Linked DNA regions of Homo sapiens. The protein of the gene in region 1 purifies or fractionates together with the protein of each later gene. This does not show direct contact. Each region holds a gene or a part of one and is shown on either strand. Other genes may lie near its edges.

Region 1 (3,451 bases):
TGAGACCAATCTGAGCAACATGGTGAAACGCTGACTGTACAAAAAATTAGCCGGTTGTGGTGGCATAAGCCTGTAGTCTCAGCTACTCAGGACGCTAAGGTGGGAGGATTGCTTGAGCCCAGGAGGTTGAGGCTGCAGTGAGCCATGATCACACCACTGCACTCCAGCTTGGGCAACAAAGTGAGCCCCTGTCTCAAAAAAAAAAAAAATTATAATGAAATGACATTGAACTAACAATGTTATTTGGAGACCTTTTGCATGTCATTTTGCTTAAAGTTGCAGTTTCTAAGAACCTATTGATGACATTAAGTGAGGACTTACTGTAACAAAACGACATTGGACAAAACGATGTTATTCAAGGACCTGCTGTACTTATCCTCGTGGAGCTGTCTAGCAGGGGAGATTGACAATAAACAAATTATACAAATATAAAGTTACAAATTGTGAAGAAGTGCTATGAAGGAAAAAAGTCAGTGGTGCTATTAGAATAAAGGGTCTTGAATTAATTGGGGGATCATGATAGACCTCTCCTAGGAGGTGCTATTGAAGCTGAGACCGGAAGGATTAAGTCCAGGCAAAGAGTGGGATGAGGAGCCTCTTAGGTGGAGCGTATGCAAGGTCTCATGCTCAGAAAGAACTTGGCTTCTTTGAGGACCTTTGGAGTATTTAAAGCCAGGAAGAGAATGGCTTAAGATAAGGTTGGAGAAGTAGGCAGAGACCATAGTGTATGGTTCCTTGAAGGCCATGATAAGGAGGATGGGTTTGGCCTTAAGTGTAATGTGAAGTCCTTGAAGAATTGTAGATAGGAAAATCACATCTAATTTAAACTTTTTTTTTTTTAAATGGAGTCTTGCTCTGTCGCCCAGGCTGGAGTGCAGTGGCACAATCTAGGCTCACTGCAACATCCGCCTCTCGGGTTCAAGAGATTGTCCTCCCTCAGCCTCCCAAGTAACTGGGACTACAGGCACGTGCCACCATGCCCGGCTAATTTTTTGTATTTTTAGTAGAGACAGGGTTTCACCGTGTTAGCGAGGATGGTCTTGATCTCCTGACCTCGTGATCCACCTGCCTTGGCCTCCCAAAGTGCTGGGATTACAGGCGTGAGCCACCACGTCTGGCCTAATTTAAACTTTTAAAAGGTTACTCTGATTATTATCTGGAGAATGGGTTGGAAGAAGGTGAGAGTAGAAGCAAAGAGGCTGGTTGGGGGGCTTTGTGGTACTCTAATAACAGAGGATGGTAACTTGGACTAAGTTAGTAGCAATGGAGATTGAAAGAATATAGATTTTTAAACTGCAATAAAAATGTTTTTATAACAGATGTAATTCATAAACCATACAATATCACCCATTTAGGCTGGGTGCGGTGGTGCGTGCCTGTAATCCTAGCGCTTTGGGAGGCCAAAGTGGGCAGATGGCTTCAGCCCAGGAGTTCGAGACCAGCCTGGGCAACATGGTGAAACCCCGTCTCTCCAAAAATTAGCCAGGCATGGTGGTGTATGCCTGTAGTCCCAGCTGCTCGGGAGGCTGAGGTGGGAGGATTGCTTGAGCCTGGGAGGCAGAGGTTGCAGTGAGCAGAGATCCCACCACTGCACTCCAGCCTGGGTGACAGAGTGAGACTGCCTCAAACCCCGTCCTCCCCACCCCCGACAAGTCACCCATTTAAACTATACAATTCAGTGGCTTTTAGCATATTCAGAGTTGTACAACCACCACTGCAGTCAATTTTAGAATAGTTTCATCACTCCAAAAAGAAACCCTGTATCCATTAGTAGTCACTCCCCACTTCTCCAGAACCTCTCCCCTGCCCAGCACTAGGCAACCACTCATCTAGTTTCTACTAATCTACTGCCTATTCTAGTTATTTCATACAAGTGAAATCATATAATACATGGTGTTTTGAGTCGGGCTCCTCTCATTTAGCATATTTTCAGGGTTCATCCATGTTATGGCATGTATCAGTACTTTTTTCCATTTAAAACTGACTAATACTCCATTGGATCAATATACCACATTTTGTTTATTCATTCATCTGCTGATGGACATTTGGGTTGCTTTCACTTTTGGCTATTATGAATAATGCTGCAATGAATATTGATATATTAGAGAATATACTTTAAAGGTAGAATTGACAGGAGTTGGGTCAATTACTGGGTGTTGAAGGAGAAGGAATCATTAAGGATGTATGTATTTCTAACTTGAACGACAACTGTATTTTTCAAAGCCACAAGAGAGTGTACAGGGCGAAGAGAGAAGAAGGCAATATAGGCTAAATGAGGGTCAAGCAGCTGTATAGAAAATGTGTGCTGACTCTAACCTTATACTGTTGAGGGTTACAATTTTAAAGAGACTGGAGTTGGTATTATGAGGATGGGCTTAGCATGGTGCTCTTGAAGTACAGGCACTACTCCCCACCCCCATCCCCACAAGGCTAGCGGAATTTTTATGTTCTATATATTCCCTTCCTCTCAGCAAATCACTTATCCAAGTACTGCTTAATACTGCTTTAAAACAATCAGATGAACAGTTAATGCCAGGATTGTTTTAGTACCCACCAAACATCTTTGTTTTCATCAATGTAAGTACAGTTGTATGCTGCATAACAACATTTTGGCCAATGACAGACTGCATATATGATGGTAGTCCCATAAGATTATAATGGAGCTAAGAAATTCCTGTCACCTGGTGACACTGTGGCCATCATAACATAGCAGCAGAATTACTTAATTTTTAAATTATTTTACTATAGCCTAAGTATATAGTGTTTATATAGTCTTCAGTAGTGCATAGTAATGTCCTAGGCCTTCACATTCACTCACCACTCACTCACTGACTCACCCACAGCAACTTCTAGTCCTGCAAGCTCTATTCATAGTAAGTGCCCTATATAAGTGTACCATTTTTAATTTTTTATATTGTATTTTTAGTTTACCTTTTCTATGTTTAGATACACAAATACTTAACATTGTGCTACAATTGCCTACAGTATTCAGTACAGTAATATGCTGTACAGGTTTGTAACCTAGGAACGATAGACTATACTATGTAGCCTAGGTGTGTAGTAAGCTATACTATCTAGGTTGGTGTAAGTATGTTCTATCATGTTCGCGTCATGACAAAATTGCCTAAGGATGCATTTCTTAGAACATATCCCCATTGTTAAGTAACACATGACTATATTTAGTATTGAGGAGCAGCATAGAAATGTAGCTGTAAACTTTATTTACTCAGAGTCCCTTATGTTAGTTCATTTATCCAAATTAGATTTAGTAGGTGTCTACTTTAAGCTAGGCTCTACAGGGAGCTATGATATGCTTATGATGTAGTCTCTGTCTTCATTTGGGGAGAAATTGGCAAGAGGGGTAGGGACTTAAAGGAATGACAGATTGTCCATGGATATTAAAGAAGACTTCATGGAGAAGATGGTGTTTGACTGGGGCCTTAAAATATAG
Region 2 (3,662 bases), about 23 Mb from region 1:
TGAGAAAGCCACAAGGAACGTCTGATCTCAAATGAATATAAAATTGGACATTGCCCCCATTGTTGTTGGTATAAACTCTGATACCAAAAACAGGAGTTTACTCTTAGCTGTGTACTTTACGCCTTCTATAAGGTGCCACACACACTTATGGCAGTAGACTACTTATTAGAAATTTAAATTTCCAAATACATTGATGAGAATACAGTAGAAAGAAGATTAAGGTGTACAAAAATCTTAAGGATTTCAAAGAAAAAAATTGTTTTTAATACTAACCTTTTTAAAACATAGTACTGATTGTTTTAGATTGGTCAGTGGGAGCCCCTTCAAGCTGTTTCCTGTGTCCTTTTGACGTATCTGCATCATTCTGTGATCATTTCTTGCTTTCTGATGCAACAAGATGTTCCAAACTCATCTTTATATTTTTCTGCCTAGGTCCTAGAATCATCCACTTGTCCAAAGAGCTCTAGTTCCTTTTAGTGGAGAATGGTATTTAGAAACCATTATTTGTTTCTTTTTAATATTGTTGTTTAGATAATAAGGAAAACAAATAATGGACTTAGATTTCCTGTTTTTTTTTTCCTACATTCCTGCTGGGTTTCTTGCATAGTCTAGTATTCAAAGTATTTTCAGAAAAGTCCCTTTTCACCAGTATTAATTTATTGGCTCTTATTGCTTATAACTTGAGTCCTATAGCTGTCATATAGCTCAGGTATAAACAGCATTTGATTTTTGAGGTGTGTAAACCCTCTCTTCATATTCTCAGGATGTAAATTTGCATTTCAGCATTGTAAAACCAGTTTGGGTATAGTATTAGTTGTACATGTCTAATTACCTACCTGTGACCTTTGTGGACAGAAATCTGCATTATAATCTTTGTAAATTTTCATCATATACTGTTTGTCTGTGGGTTCACATTACTTAAATGAATACCAGCTTTTTTAAACCCCTAGGCTGGTAATCAGTTTCGTGTGTTAGGCAGGTTAACCAATTTTAGTTATCAGTTGTGATTTTTATTCCTAGCTAGACATTTGTTGTACATACTGTTCAGAGATTGTTAAAATCTAGAGTCAGGGCACTACCAAAAAACGCCTGATAGTTTTAAAGATGCAAGTTTTTTTTTGTTTTTATTTTTTATTTTTTGAGACAGACTCTCACTCTGTTACCCAGGCCAGGCTGGAGTGCAATGGCACAATCTTGGCTCACTGCAACCTCTGCCTCCTGGGTTCAAGCAATTCTCCTGCCTCAGCCTCCCGAGTAGCTGGGATTACAGGTGTGCGTCACCACACCAGGCTAATTTTTGTTTTTTTGTGTTTTTTTTTTTTTTCAGTAAAGACGGGATTTCACCATGTTGGCCAGGCTGGTCTTGAACTCCTGACCTCAAGTGATCTGCCTGCCTCGGCCTCCCAAAGTGCTAGGATTACAGGTGTGAGCCACCACGCCAGGCATAAAGATGCAAGTTTTAAAATTTAAAAAAATTAAAATGAGTTGGCCAGGTGCGGTGGCTCACACCTGTAATCCTAGCACTTTGGGAGGCCAAGGTGGGCCTATCACTTGAGGTCAGGAGTTCAAGAGCAGCCTGGCCAACATGGTGAAACCCCGTCTCTACTAAAAATACAAAAATTAGCCAGGCATGGTGGCGGGTGCCTGTAATCCCAGCTACTCGGGAGGCTGAGGCACGAGAATTGCTTGAACCCAAGAGGCGGAGGTCACAGTGAGCCAAGATCATGCCACTGCATTCCAGCTTGGACGACAGAGTAAGACTCTGTCTCAAAAAAAAAAAAAAATTAAAATGATTTATATAGACTTAAGACCTGAGTATTTACTCTGTTCAATTGGGGGAAGCTCCATCTACAGTCTAATGTGTTCAGTTTTAAAGCCTGAACTCCATACCTACTAAAATGTATTAACAATCCTTAGGCCAAGAAAACATCCACCTACTGTGAGTTTTCTTTTTTCTTTATAAAATAAAATACTTACATTGCTTCATTACGCTTCACCAAATTCTTTGAACTGATCCTTAACACATGGGAAAACTTACCTAGGGATGGAGATATTTTAGAGGAAGGTCTCACCTTCTGTGTTTGGGAGAGAAAGCAGTAAAACCCGGATTTCTCAGTACCTTTGGGCTTTATTCCCTTAGACTTTCTTCACCTTTGTCTCTAGAAATGATGATAATTGCAGTGTCCTCAGCAACTCTATCTCTGGGTAGACTGCTGGTTCCAGGGGGAAGGGATGTATTGGAAAGCCTGCATCCCCAAATGAAAAATTGGAAATGGATACATTTCCATAAATGTATTTTTTAAGAGAGCAATGATGTCAGTATATATATTAAGTCTTCGAGTCTTACAAAATACATTTATTAAGCAAACATTTGTTGAGTACCTATTAGGAGCAAGGTAAAAGAGCCATGTGCTCACAAGGATGAAAAATGTTAGTCAAGGCTTGTAATCTAGTCAATGAGATAAGATAATAATGACTCCTATGACGTTAAGGGAACTTCAGAGGCAGGATATAAGACGTTTAACTGAGAAAATTAAGGAAAGTTTTATAAAACGGGGTAGTATTTGAGCTGTACCTTGGAATAATGGGTAGAATTTAGATGACTGGGGGTTTAGACTAGGTTATCTCCAAGATATTTTTCTGCTTAAAAAGTATCTGAACACAGAAAGGGAATAAATTTTCTGGGCCCACCTGGAGACCTCAAGGGGTGTATTTGATCTCTGCTTTAGTTTCATGGGCATAGATGACATCTTCTGATTCTCAGCAGGTGACCAAGATTAAAAGTGCCAACTAAGGTAATAAATAGAAAACCTGGGTCTTTATTCTGGTAGGTTAAACTCTCATCTTTATGTCTTCATCCAGCTATACCTCAGTGCTTACTGTGTACTAGAGGCTGTTTGAAGAGTTTTACAGGGATTATTTTTACTTAATTTTCACAATAATTATATGAAATGGGTGATATATCCCCCATTTTACAGAGGAGAAAACTGAGGCACAAAAATTTAAATAAACTTGCCCAAGGACACTCAGCTAGTAGGTGAGAGCCTGTATTCAAACTCAAGCAGGTAGGCTACAGAGCCTACATTCTTTACCACTATTCTATACTGAATTTTGTAACATCTAAACAAGCTTGTAAATTTTTTTAAGGTTGTTTTGCTCTTATTTCTAATGACTTTTTCCTCACCTTTTATTAGTTTCCTTTGCTTTGAAGATAGTTTGCGGTAAGCTGAGTGTAGAATATAAATCTGTATAAGTCACCTAACAAACATGGTCTGTTTATTGTAACTACAGCAACCCCACAAACGGTGTCTGTCCCAAATAAAGTTGCAACTCCAATGTCAGTGACAAGCCAAAGATTTACGGTGCAGATTCCACCTTCTCAGTCCACACCTGTCAAACCAGGTAATGTGATTGGGAGTGGGGGACAGAATTTGTGAATAATTTGAAATTGTAGGACCGTTTGTATTCCTATAGCAAGAGGTAAATTGTTTTAATACCCAACAGGAAGGTGGCAGTAATGCTGCAAATGAGGGTTCTTCAGAGGGACCTATGAGCCCTCTAAAATTCTGTGAAATTTTACATAAAGTAGTCTCCCCCCTTATCCTTGAGGGATTGTTCCAAGACCCCCAGTTAAATTTACAACCTTTAAAGTTAAATTTATA
Region 3 (2,457 bases), on another chromosome or scaffold:
TTGTCATCTTTTGCTTTCAATAACTTTATAAAAGGCTCTGGGCTACAGACCACTATCAGCCTTTAAGAATATTTGCCGGCCATCTTGCTGATGTGAATTGTACCAGATTCCATCCAAATTCTAATTATGTTGCTACGGGCTCTGCAGACAGAACTGTGCGGCTCTGGGACGTCCTGAATGGTAACTGTGTAAGGATCTTCACTGGACACAAGGTATTTTACACTCTTACTATTCCAGCATCCAAGGTTGCTTTCAAAATAAAAATATTTTTTAAACAAGTGACACATAAATTTTAAAGATACCATTCTTACTACAAAACTTTAAAATTTTGTCTTATTTTCCTAGACATACTTTGATCTTTTCTATGAACTTTTTTCTAGGGACCAATTCATTCCTTGACATTTTCTCCCAATGGGAGATTCCTGGCTACAGGAGCAACAGATGGCAGAGTGCTTCTTTGGGATATTGGACATGGTTTGATGGTTGGAGAATTAAAAGGCCACACTGATACAGTCTGTTCACTTAGGTTTAGTAGAGATGGTGAAATTTTGGCATCAGGTAAATGACTATTAATGGCTTTACGATAAATGCTATGTTAAGAGGAAACAGTGTTGACGACTGCAATACTAAGTCCTTATGTTTTAGGTTTTACTTCCCTTTAGCTATGATTCCAGAGTGTCATCCTACATCAATCACTTCTCAGGTTAAAGTACTGCTTGATAATGCTCCTTAGGAAGGAATAGAGTTATTGGTCAAGTTTAGATTTTTCACCCAAAATGTACAGTAAATACATAGTGTAGTGGACAAAATGTCCGAATGTAAATATGATGGATGCAACTAATGGTTTCCTTTGACTTCCCCTTAGGTTCAATGGATAATACAGTTCGATTATGGGATGCTATCAAAGCCTTTGAAGATTTAGAGACCGATGACTTTACTACAGCCACTGGGCATATAAATTTACCTGAGAATTCACAGGAGTTATTGTTGGGAACATATATGACCAAATCAACACCAGTTGTACACCTTCATTTTACTCGAAGAAACCTGGTTCTAGCTGCAGGAGCTTATAGTCCACAATAAACCATCGGTATTAAAGACCTTTTGGAAGCTACTGTTTTTAAAAAGGGAGACTAAAAGCAAATACCTCAGTGATTAATATTTAAGCTACAGAGAATGTTTTTGTCTATATGGATCTGGAAGTATGCTGCTTGGAAAAATCTGAACAGGACAGTTCCACGTTTCTATAGCAACCACATTTGACTAATTTCCGTTAGTTGAATAAGAGGTATTATGATCATGGAGGGGACATTTATGGTGCTTTGGATTGTGTGGAAACTATGCATTTTCTGTTCAAATGCTATTTTAATTTATTACATTTAGAAAAAAAGTTGATTTCAATAATTCATCCTGCTTCAAGATTCAAATTCAGAAATATACTATCATCTTGAATTTTAGCTGAAGAATCCTATGAGCATGTATGTTTCTGCTGTAAAAACGTAGTTACTGTATGGCACTCAAAAACTATGTTAAATGATCCACTAACTTTTTTTTTCTTGGCCCATGATTAATGGAATGTATGTAACTAGGTAGGGTTCCTTTCTTAGATCTAGAGGAAGTACAGCCACCCACTGACATCTGAATTTATATACCTGTTGAGTTTTGAGTGCACCCAAACACTCGATAAACCAGGTGAAGAAATTTAGCTTCCATGTTCTACTTCAGCTAAAACAGCTACATACAACCTAGTACACTTGAAGTCAGACAGACATTTCAGTTGCTTACCTCCAGTACTGAGCCTTGCTTTGGGAAACTAAAAGATTTAGACCAAGTCACTGCCAGTTTTTGCCTTTGTTGCATTTTGTACAGTTTTTATATTTTTGATATCTTGTAAATAAAGACAACCAGCTTTTCCAGGTTCATAATTTATTGTACAAATTGAATTATCACATGATGAGTTGGCATTAGCTTCTCCAGGCATGGGAACTTAACAGATGAGGTTAAGAACCGTAGACAGTTTAAAATCCTATAAACAAAGCAAACAGTTTAGATACAAATGTGGCCAGCTTTACTCTTAAGACACTCAAGAATTACTAAGGTAACATGAACCCACTGAAACTGAATGCGAATTTATTAGATTGTCAAAGATGTAACACCAAAAAAATTAAAGTGTATCTCAGATTAATACTTTTTTTTTTTTGAGACAGAGTTCGCTCTTGTTGCCCAGGCTGGAGTGCAATGGCACAATCTCGGCTCACTGCAACCTCCGCGTCCCAGGTTCAAGTGATTCCCCTGCCTCAGCCTCCCAAGTAGCTGGGATTACAGGCATGTGCCACCACACCCGGCTAATTTTGTATTTTTTAGTAGAGACAGGGTTTCACCATGTTGGTCAGGCTGGTCTCGAACTCCTGACCTCAAGTGATCCACCCGCCTCAGCCTCCCAAAGTACTGGGATTA

The links.
Region 2: the proteins of TAF7L (region 1) and TAF9B purify together in Homo sapiens (affinity purification with mass spectrometry; 2 studies listed by BioGRID and IntAct, with this or other methods). This does not show direct contact.
Region 3: the proteins of TAF7L (region 1) and TAF5 purify together in Homo sapiens (co-immunoprecipitation; 3 studies listed by BioGRID and IntAct, with this or other methods). This does not show direct contact.

What each region holds. Positions count from the first base shown.
Region 1 is NC_000023.11:101,270,977-101,274,427, reverse strand, and holds part of TAF7L (transcription initiation factor TFIID subunit 7-like), read left to right. Parts: intron 1-3,451. UniProt on the Homo sapiens protein: Probably functions as a spermatogenesis-specific component of the DNA-binding general transcription factor complex TFIID, a multimeric protein complex that plays a central role in mediating promoter responses to various activators and repressors.
Region 2 is NC_000023.11:78,133,078-78,136,739, reverse strand, and holds part of TAF9B (transcription initiation factor TFIID subunit 9B), read left to right. Parts: intron 1-3,291; coding exon 3,292-3,402; intron 3,403-3,662. UniProt on the Homo sapiens protein: Essential for cell viability. TAF9 and TAF9B are involved in transcriptional activation as well as repression of distinct but overlapping sets of genes. May have a role in gene regulation associated with apoptosis.
Region 3 is NC_000010.11:103,387,141-103,389,597, forward strand, and holds the end of TAF5 (transcription initiation factor TFIID subunit 5), read left to right. Parts: intron 1-34; coding exon 35-212; intron 213-380; coding exon 381-558; intron 559-865; coding exon 866-1,083; 3' UTR 1,084-1,925; downstream 1,926-2,457. UniProt on the Homo sapiens protein: The TFIID basal transcription factor complex plays a major role in the initiation of RNA polymerase II (Pol II)-dependent transcription.